2 separate regions of the Homo sapiens genome follow, and region 2 is linked to region 1. Evidence: fine-mapped expression QTL. A gene starts in region 1. The other region holds a variant in brackets. All regions are shown on one strand. Distances are from middle to middle.

What was found.
Region 2: its variant is fine-mapped to the expression of LIG1 in whole blood (TOPMed, PIP above 0.99).

The regions. Positions count from the first base shown.
Region 1 is chr19:48,168,010-48,173,373 of GRCh38, reverse strand. LIG1 (DNA ligase 1) reads left to right here and starts at 3,030. Exons shown (of 28, transcript NM_000234.3): 1 at 3,030-3,133. ZSWIM9 (zinc finger SWIM-type containing 9) reads right to left here and starts at 2,694. Exons shown (of 4, transcript NM_199341.4): 1 at 2,660-2,694; 2 at 1,297-1,580. The coding sequence starts at 1,571. RefSeq lists silencers at 2,502-2,641, 3,442-3,491, 3,522-3,591 and an enhancer at 2,889-3,548.
Region 2 is chr19:48,134,538-48,139,901 of GRCh38, reverse strand. It overlaps LIG1 (DNA ligase 1), which reads left to right. Exons shown (of 28, transcript NM_000234.3): 13 at 2,214-2,380; 14 at 2,818-2,894; 15 at 3,777-3,868; 16 at 4,123-4,222. Among named protein-coding and RNA genes, the nearest start is that of LIG1-AS1, 8.6 kb to the left of the region's middle. The variant G/A (reference allele first, on the strand shown) is at 2,352.

The DNA of each region.
Region 1 (5,364 bases):
GGAGCCAAGATCGCACTACTGCTCTCCAGCCTGGGCAACAGAGTAAGACCCTGTCTCAAAAAAATAAAGACTAAATAAAATACAATTGGGGTCCATTAAAATACCCCTGGCCACCTGGGTGTGATTCTGGCTCTCCTGGATTTCTCACCTGCCCCTCTTTGCACAGTTGTAGGGAACTACCTGTGAGCTTGTTCTTTTAACGTCAATCTTTCTGTCCAGTCAGAAAGTACCAGAAGGGCAGGGATTTTTGTCTCTTGCCCAACTCCATCGCTCCAACTAGAATATCCCCAGCCCACAGCATGGGACCTGGCCCCTTATTCACTGAATAGATGGATCCTTTTCTTTATCCTGCGGCTTCTCTGCAGTTCAGTCTCCCAGTCTCTGTCTCCCAGTCTTTGTCACGTGTACAAAACCTGGCTCTTCTGTTTCCCTGGCTGTCTCTGGTGTCTCTGCCTCCATGTCTCCATGTTTCTGGAATTTTCCGTGACTATTTTCTCCTCTTGGGGTGTGTGTGTTTTACGCTCTGCCTCTCGAAGTCTCTATTACATTCTGTAAGTCAGGCCGGGCACAGTGGCTCGCGGCTGTAATCCCAGCACTTTGGGAGGCAAGACGGGCAGATCACCTGAGGTCATGAGTTTGAGACCAGCCTGGCCAACATGGTGAAACCCCATCTCTACAAAAATCCAAAAATTGGCCAGGCGTGGTGGCGCGTGCCTGTAATCCCAGCTACTCAGGAGGTTGAGGCAGGAGAAACAACGCTTGAACTCGGGAGGTGGAGGTTGCAGTGAGCCGAGATTGTGCCATTGCACTCCAGCCTGAGTGACAGAGCAAGACTCTGTCTCAAAAAAACAACACAAAGCAAAACAAAACAAAAACAAAAACAAAAAACCACACAAAAATTAGCCGGGCATGATGGCAGGTGCCTGTAGTCCTAGCTACTCGGGAGGCTGAGGCGGGAGAATCACTTGAACCTAGGAGGTGGAGGCTGCAGATGGCACCACTGCACTCAAGCCTGGGCGACAGAGCGAGACTCCATCTCGAAAAAAAAAAAAAAGTCTGTAAGTCGGGCCCACACCATCTCTTGCTCCGTGAGTATCTTTGTCTCTCTAGCTCCTCTTCTTCTCTCAGTACATGTCCCTCCTTGACTCCCGCCTCTCTGCAAGGTGTATTTGGCTGCCTCAGTTGGCCTCTCCCCCTCTGCATCTCTGGGTGGGGTGTTCTCTGCCCGTCTCCCACCCACACCCACCCCCGGTGCTCCCCTTCCCCCCAGCAGGACAGCGGCTCAGGTTCACGCACCCCACGGCGGGCCGGCTGGGCGCACGCACGTCCTTGCACACAAGCCGCACGTAGCTGTACTTGAGCACGTCGATGAGCGTGTAGAGCGGGGGCGCACTGGCCCAGCGGCAGCGCGCCAGGTGCATGGAGCTCTTGACGAAGAAGAGCGCCAGCCGCTGCTGGCACCACGCGTCGAAGAAGCGGCTGAACTCGGCCCACGAGAAGAAGGCCCGCTCCCGCAGCTCCTGCTCCTCCTGCCCCGCAGCCGTGCCGGGTGGGGGCTCCGGCCGCTCCATCCTGGGGGCCTGCGTGGAGGAGGGGAGAACAGGTGGATATCAGACCCATTCCCACCCGGGGTATCTCATCTACTCCATTCTTGGCCTGCCCCGTCGGTTGCTGGTGCCTCTATCGAGGTGGGTAGCCCGGGGTCGGACGTGCCTGTTTTTCTCCAAATATATAAATATCAACCTCCATCCTATCTTTGGCCTCCTCCCACCGCCTTATCCCTGGTTCACTTGGAGCCTGTCATCTTGATTCCTAATTCCAACTCGTCTCCTCCTCCGCAGATGTGACCCTTAGGTACAGTTGGAATCTCTCCTCCCAAAATACGACCCTTAAGCTCAGATGTCCCTTAAGGACATCTCCTCAAATGTGTTCTCAAATTCCAGCTAAAACCTCCTCCCCTTCCAGCTGTGTCTCTCACCCAAGAGTAACTTCTAACTCTCGTATTCATCTGGAACTCCTCCTTCCATGTGCCAACAGTTGGCTGTAACCCCTCCAAAGACGCTCCATCTCCAGATGTGCTCCCACATCCAGGCCACGGACCCCTCACCCGGTCACATGCTTCATGCACCTGTGGCTCCGCACTCCCCAGATGTGCCTCTGGCGTGCAGCTGTTGCCCCTTCCCCCGATTATGACCCTATGGCTCGCCACATGCAGCTGTAGCTGGGGCTTCCCTGAGACACTCTCATCTCCAGATGTACTCCCCACATGCAGTTATCCACGCTTCGCCTACAGGTGTGTGCCCCACTTGTGGCTAGTTCTCCTCGGAAGTGTCACCAGTATTCACCTGTGGTCCCCTCCTCCTCAGATGCGGCCCCCAGTCCAGCTGTGGGCCCCTCCTCCCAGTTACATCCACCATCCCCCGCAATATGCATCTTCGTTCTAGACATGGCCCCTCGTCCTCGGATGGGCTCCTTCACCCCAGATGCTCCCCCCACGTCCAGCTGCGCGTCTCCCCTCGAGCAGCCCCATCCAGCCCGCTCCCGACCCTCCTACTCCCCCCCTCCCCGCCCGCTGCGGCACCTTCCAGCCCCGCCGTCCCACCTAGCTGTGCCTCTCCCCTCCCCAAGATGTGCACCCTTCCCGCCCCTCCCCACTCACCTACCCGCCCCGGAGCGGCGTCCACCTCCCACAATGCCCCGCGCCCAGGCCTGGCCCGGCCCTTGCTCCCGGGATGCCCCGCGCGGTCTCCCGCCTCTCTTCCCGCCGTGCCTCGCGGGGGCGCTTCCACCGATTCCTCCTCTTTCCCTGCCAGTCACTCCTCAGACCCTCAGCCACACCCGCTCATCCAGGGCGAGGGAAAGCGCGGGCATTTTCCCAGTGTGCTCTGCGGGAGGGCTCGCCCCACTTCACCCCTTTTCCCGCCCTCCTCCCATTCGGGAGACTACGACTCCCAGTGTCCTCCGCGCGACGGCGGCGGTGCGGACGGTGCCCAGGTCCCGCCCCTAGGCTCTGCCCCGCCCCCGCCCGCAGACGTCTGCGCGCGAATGCCGTGGCGCGAACTTGGGACTGCAGAGGCGCGCCTGGCGGATCTGAGTGTGTTGCCCGGGCAGCGGCGCGCGGGACCAACGCAAGGCAAGTGGGGCCGTCCGCAAGCAGATGGGAGGCGGAGGGCGGCGGGTGCGCCGAATGCTTGGGGCCTATGCTTCGCCATGTCGGGGTGTCTGCAGAGGAGTGGGCGTGGGGACGCTGAGGCTGCCGAGAGCGCGGTGGAGACGGAAGAGCGCGGGCTGCGGGCCGCCGGAGAGTGCAGAGAGGTGTCTCCCAGAGGGAGGGGGGCCAGGTAGAGGGTAGACGAGAGACAGAGACAGTTGGACAGGTCCTCTGAGAAGAGGCCTTGAGGTGCGAGTTCACCTGGAAAGGGGAGAGGCCAAATGGAACTGAGGGGCGGGGCCGGGGGGGGGAAAACTGTGTGGGCGGGGCCAGCTGGAAATCGGAAGGCCCCCCGAGGGGGCGGGGCTATCTGGGAGGGGGAGGGGCTGAAGGGAGCTAAGGGGCGGGGCCGGGGAAAAGATTGCGTGTGGGCGGGGCCACCTGGAAGGGGGAGGTGCCAAGGGTGGGGCTGGCTGGGAACCGGAAGTGCTGAGGGGGCGGGGGCCACCTGGAAGTGCTGAGGGGGCGGGGCTAGAAGAAGGTAAATCGCGGGCAGCAGCATCACCTGGAAGGAGTGGGCCCTACTGGAGGGAGATGGGTGGTGTCAGGGAGAGGTCAGTGGTAAGGTCCAGGTCTAGGTAAAGGGCTCGTAAAAGATGGAGAATCATCTGAATGGGGAGACGTCTGGCCTAATGTATGCTTGATAAAGGGATGGAGCTTACCTCTTGTTTTTACTTTTTATTTTGAAATAATTATAGATTCAAGGAAGTTGTGAAAAGAGTATATCCATCTTCCCCTAATGGTGACATCTTATGTAGTCCCAATATCGAAACCAGGAAATTGACATCAATACAGTTCTGTTAACTAGATTACAGACCTTGTTCAGTTTTCACCAGTTTGTGTGGTGTGAGTGTGATTGTGCATCTGTGTGCCCGTGCAGCTTGATTCCTTGTATAGATTTGTGTAACCCCCATCGTAATTGTGATATAGAACAGTTCCCTCTCCACATAAGAACTCCTCCCCAGGCCCCTGGCAACCGCTAATGTGTTCACCATCTCTAGTTTTGTCATTCGGAGATTGTTATGTAAATGGAATCATATATTATTAGGATGTTACCTTTTTTCTACTCTGCACAATGCCCTGGAGGTCCACCCAAGTTGTTGCTTGTATCAGTGCTTCGTTTCTTTTTATTACTGAGTACTGTTTCATCCTTACTTGATATTTTTCCTGTCATTATCTCTTCATTTTGGTAACCGCTTTATTGAGATATAATTCACAATTATACAGTTTGCCCATTTAAAGTGTACAATTTTGCCCATTTAAAATGTACAAGTCAGCGGTTTTCAGTGTATTTAAAGTGTATTTCAGTGTATTTAAAGTGCCCATTTAAAGTGTACAAGTCAGTGGTTTTCAGTGTATGCGCTGAGTTGTGCAGTTATTACCATAATCGATTTTAGGATATTTTTATCATCCCCCCAAAAAACTCCTATACCTTTTATCCATCATTCATTTAATTTTAACCCTGAACAATATTCTACCATATGGTATTCCAGTAATGAGGGAACCAGTTCCCTAAGGGTAGACATTCCACCAGTTTCCAGTCTTCTCTCATTACAGTTAGTGCTGCAGCAGGTAACTTTGTGCCTCACTTGGTCCACCTGTGAGGGTCTCTGTGGGCCAAATACACAGAAGTGGGGTTGCCGTTCCGATAGAGACGCCAGGTGGTCCTCCAGAGGCATCAACCAGTTTGTTCCCCCCAACTCAGCAGTACACAGAGTTGAGAAGCCAGCCTTGAGTACCGTGGTAAGGAGAAAGGAACGTGGGCTTTGGAGCCAGCCACACCGGGTTTTGAAGCCTTGCCTGAACCCCAGCTATGTTCCTCTGTCCTCATTACCTTCATCTATAAAGTGGGGATGATCTCACCTGTCTTGGAGGGCTGACTTGAGGATTGAGGGTATTTGAGAATGTGATCAGCCTGTCAGGCATAGAGTAGGCTTCCCAGTAAACGCTTATGTATTTCTCCTTCCCTTGCAACTCAGTCTGGTGGTTAAGAGGTGAGCTGTGGAGCAGGCCGACCTGGGGTGGAACGTACTATAGATGCAGGTTAAGTTCCTTTGAAAACCCCTCTGTGCCTTAGTTTCTGTAACAGAGTTGTTGTGGAGAGTCAGTATAATTGAGAATGTCAAGTACCTAGGCAGTTGAGCACTCAGGAG
Region 2 (5,364 bases), 33 kb after region 1:
GGATCGGAGAGATGGTGGAGAGAGGCTGTGAAACAGGGTTGAGGAGAAGGCTGAGAGGGAGGAGAGCCTGATGGGGACAGATTTGCAGGGGTGTGGGAGAGAACACAGGGGCAGCAGTTCAGGTGAGGGAGGACCAGGCATGTGCTGGGACAGGGGGTGTGGGGTGCAGGGAAGGGGAGGGCTGGGGAAAGATGCTGGAGGCAGAGACAGCAGGATTTGGGGGCTGAGATGGAAGGTTGGGGCTTAGAGAGGTCTGAAAGGACTTTGACTGGAGGGATTGGAAGGAGTGGGAGGAAAGAACATGGTGTGTGGGGGGCCAGCAGCCTGAAGGGGCCCAGCCGCCAGTGCTGGGTGGAAAGGCTGGTGATGCGGATGGCCCGCCTGCCAAGGGCCTGGAGTGCTCGGTGCTTATCATGAGGACACTGGGGAGCCATGGAAGGATTGTGAGCAGGCAAGGGGCAGCATCCAGGGGGAAGAGGAGCTGGACCCCAGCTGTAGAGAAGAGAGAAGAGGGCAGGAGAGATCTGGCAGACAGTGGATGTCAGGGTGAGGAGGCAGGAGGAATGCCTCCAGGATCTCCCTGGGTGACTGGATGGATGACAAAGCCGTCGGCAGCTTGGGACCCTGGTGAGGGGCAGGCACCTGCAGGGGGCATTAATCACCCCAGCGTGGGGCAGGCATGAGCAACCTCTATCTGTGGGCCCCCAGGGCCATCCAGGAAGTTTGGAAACGGGTCTGAGGCTCACCAGGTCTGGCTCAGAGCCCAGGGTTCGGGCTGGTCAGTGTAGGAGGGATGACCACCCACTGGTGGGTTCTCATCCGCCTGGGGAGAGGATGTGCTGGGAGCACTGGAGCTGGCTTAGGGCCATGGGCACCAACATTTAGGGAAGGCAGGGGTTTCAGGCTTTCATGAGAGGACAGAGGGACTGAGAAAGGTTGACTTGGATCAGGAAAGAGTTACGGGCTTATGGGAGCCAGAGGAGATGAGACTCAAGATTTTCTCACTCATTCACTCAAGATGTGTTTCGGGAGCACTGACGTCATACCAGACCCAGCACACACGGGGTCGGTTAAGAATACTCTGAGCTGCAGGTAACAGAAAACCCAACTACATTGGCTTGGACAAAGAAGGATCTGTTTTTCTCACAAAAGAAGTTGCAGATGCTGGCTTTCCTGCCCAACAATCCATGGCAGCTGGGGCCTCTTCCACTGTCTCATGCCTCCACCCTTGATGGGTCGTGTTCACACTCACACTGCTCTCCGTGCCGCCTTGTGGCCCCCGTGGCTGTCCAAGTCCCGGGTTTGTTGTGAGTTGTTGGCCACTTTGGAGAATCCCGTCCCCTTTGATGTGTGATTCGATAACATCCCATTGGTGAGGCTCACACTGTCGGCTCTCCCATTTGTGGCAGTTTCGCTTCAGGCGCGAGGCCCACCTTCATGTGCTCTGTGCCGCGGCTGAGCATCTGTGGACTGAAACGCGCACTTGTTCGTTCATTACGGATTGCTTTCCCTTTCATTCTTTTCTGTGTTAGGGTTAGGGCGTTATCTCGATAGGTGTAGGCAGGTTATGTTATCTCCACATTTTATTTCAGACCAGAAAAGAGGTGACACACAGTATCTGGTGACAAGGGTGTGTTGGTTCTGATAGGTTGAGAGCTGCTTGTCACAGCTGTCACCGTGACTTGAGGCTCCATCTCCCCAGCTCTTACACCCAGGCGCCCATGGGACCCAGCTCTGGACAGTAAGTGGGGCCAGAGCACATCCCACGTGTGTAAGCTGGTGGCTCCAAAACAAGCCGAAGGGTCTTTGGTCACTGCCAGAGATGTTCATGACCCGCCAGAGGAAAGGGTCCCTTGGCCTTCTCTGCTCTGTCCACACTCACTTCCCTAGTGACCTTGTCCCGCCTGTGGCTTTAAATCCCATCCGCGCCCTGATGACACCGGCCCAGATGTCTCCCCTGAGTGTGGTCATGCTCGTTCATCCACCGCTTTCCTGGCTCCACGTGCATGTTTGCTGACTTCCTACAGCCAGCGTGGCTGGGGGCACGTTCCCCAAGCCATTTCTACCAAGTGGGTGAGCGTTAGACACAGGGAGGTGCAGGGACTCGCCACAAGCACACACAGCTGGAGAAAATTCATCCAGGCCGCGAGAGAAGGGAGACACGCAGCCACAACTGTCACCCTCGACACCCCCACCCGCGCTCTCCCCTGAAGGTCGGCAGCTGGAGTCCGTCCGGGCTGAGGCAGCCGAGAAAGGCGACGTGGGGCTGGTGGCCGAGAACAGCCGCAGCACCCAGAGGCTCATGCTGCCACCACCTCCGCTCACTGCCTCCGGGGTCTTCAGCAAGTTCC[G/A]CGACATCGCCAGGCTCACTGGCAGTGCTGTGAGTGGGGCGGGCCGCTCATCCCGGACCCCAGACATCTTGGGGACCTGAGGCCACGCGTGTGTCAGGAAGGCTTCTGGGTAGACCATCAGCTGGGTCGCATCAGTCCTTCTCATGGGGTGCACAGCTTCCTCTCCTCCTTCCTGCACCCAATCCTAGGGGAGTCTCCTCTTCAGAGTCTAGCAGACCTAATGCCATGGCTGCCACATGACAGGACTCAGTAAATACTTCCTGGATAAAGGGAGAGGGAGGCAAGGAGGAGAGCTAGCTCGTTCTTACTGCCCTAAGAGTGGGCGGCCATGGGAGCTGGGACATGGGGATGGGGTGAGGGAAGGAGGGCAGGTATTCCAAAATGCAGGGCAGCAGCACGGCTGGTGGGGTGGAGGTGTGGTCCCTGCCTTCACCAGGCACTGACGGCTCTTCCCCTGACTCTCCAGTCCACAGCCAAGAAGATAGACATCATCAAAGGCCTCTTTGTGGCCTGCCGCCACTCAGAAGCCCGGTTCATCGCTAGGTAAGCGTGTGGGCCTGTGAGGCTACAGAGGGGGACTGCAGGCTCGGAGGTGAAAGGAGGGAGGGACTGGCAGCTGGAATCATCACAAATGCCCTGACCATCCTTGGATGAGAAAAGCATGAGCAGGAGGCCCAGCCCCTAAAGAGTGGGAAGGGACACCATTTCCTTTCACAGGCCAGCTTCTGTCCCTTGGTAGTGCTGTCTAGAGAAGGCCCCTGGGCCCCTGTGGGTGAAGCATGCTGTGATTGATTGGTGAGGTCTGCCTCGGCTTGGGCGCGGGCCCTGCAGCAGGAAGCCAGGGTTTGTTTGCCATGACAGTGAGAGCAAATCCATTGAGGGCTCACATCATGGAGCATTTCTTGGGAGCCCTGCCCTGTGCCCCGTGCCTTACCTCATCAGTTCCTACCAGCAACTCTGTGAGACTGGTCTTGTTACCCTCACCTCCAGTTTATAGAAGGGGAAATGGAGACATGGGGAGGCAAACTAAGCCACTTGTCTCCTGCCACTGGCTCAAAGCAAGGACCATGCTGGGGTCCTGACCATTACAGTCACCAGGGCGGGCGCCAGGCTCAGTTCTCTCCCTGACTCATCCTCCTCAAGCCTCGCCAACCCCTCAGGGCAGCTGAGATGGGAGGTGCTGGTGCACCTACTTGTGCCCCTCCCCAGTCTATGCTAGTGGGCAGGATCATTACTGCCTGGCTCAGTTTCCTCATCTGTCACATGGGGCTGTGTGATATCTGGGGTCCCTTCCAGGCTCTGAAGATTCTTCTGGTTTTTGAGGAGAGGGTCTACATACATCAAGGTCGAGGAGATCAGAGAAGGGAGGAGGCAAGATTGGGGAGGTGCAGACAAGCCCCCTTCCCTGGCCTGCTCTCTCCCCAGGTCCCTGAGCGGACGGCTGCGCCTTGGGCTGGCAGAGCAGTCGGTGCTGGCTGCCCTCTCCCAGGCAGTGAGCCTCACGCCCCCGGGCCAAGGTGAGCTCCTGTGGCCCGTCTCTGCATCCCTCGCTGGAGTTACCTCAGGCTTCCCCCCTCCTCTTCAGAGGCCCATGCCCGCCCCTTCCCCAGCGGGCCCCTGCCATACCAGGCTCCTCTCTCCTGGGTGGGGGGGAGGGGGCGTCTTGGGCCGCGGCATCTGCATTCCTTGCCATACAGCAAACCACCCACTGCACCCTGGTGTAGCCAAGGATGTGGGTGCCTTCCAAAGCCTCTGGTGGGTCTTTTCTTAGAATTCCCACCAGCCATGGTGGATGCTGGGAAGGGCAAGACAGCAGAGGCCAGAAAGACGTGGCTGGAGGAGCAAGGCATGATCCTGAAGCAGACGTTCTGGTGAGAGCTGGGCAGTGGGTGGAGTTGCCAGGGGCTGTGGGCAGAGTGCCAGGGTGGGGGTGGAGCCAGAGGAGCAGTGGGTGGGGCCAGTGAAGTGACGGACAGGCATCACGAGTGCCGGTCACGGGGTGACTGAGAGCAGAGGTGGTGATCTAGACAAGGCTGGTGCTTGACACAAGGATGGTGACAAAGATCAGGAAGGTGGCAAACAGTGAAGGGTCAGTGACCCCAGGAGAGGTATAGAAAGACGCTGGCAGCGGCCAGGCACAGTGGCTCACGCCTGTAATCCCAGCACTTGGGAGCCTGAAGCAGGCAGATCACTTGAGGTCAGGAGTTTGAGACCAGCCTGGCCAACATGGTGAAACCCTGTCTCTACTAAAAATACAAAAATTAGCCTGTAATCCCAGCTACTTGGGAAACTGAGGCACAAGAATCATTTGAACCCAGGAGTTGGAGGCTGCAGTGAGCTGAGATCACGCCACTGCGTTCCAGCCTGGGCAACAGAGTGAGACTGTCTTAAAAAAAAGAAAGACGCTGACAGCAAGGGAGGGCAGCCGGCAACATGAGGTTTCTGAGTGCCAGACAGGGCTGTGCATGCAGAAAGGCCTTAAGGGACCCAGAGAGGAGCAGGTGACTGACACATGGTGAAGGGTCTTGACAGTCATGGAGAGGACATCCGTGGAGCGGCCACGAGGGCTCCAGAGAGAGCCATGTGGAGGGACCTAGGCCAGCAGCTGACCCAGGGCTGGTGACTCCAAGATCATGACTGCCCCAGAGAGGATGTCAGAGGCAGGAGGGCCGATGGCAGTTCCACAGATGGCCTCAGAGCACCTGCTCTGGGCCAGGGCCCCCCACTGGGTGCTGAGCAGAGAGTGGTGAACAGGCCCGGGCAGCAAGCTCAACTCTGCCTGCACGTGGGGCTCTATCAGCTGCTGACCTCAGGCCTACCCCACACCAGCTACATCAAAATCTTTGTAGGTGGAACCTAGCCTTGAAAACCTTTGTCTATTTTTATTTTGTTTGAGACGGAGTCTCGCCCTGTCATCCAGGCTGGAGTGCAGCAGCACAATCTCAGCTCACTGCAACTTCCGCCTCCAGGGTTCAAGTGATTCTCCTGCCTCAGTCTCCTGAGTAGCTGGGAC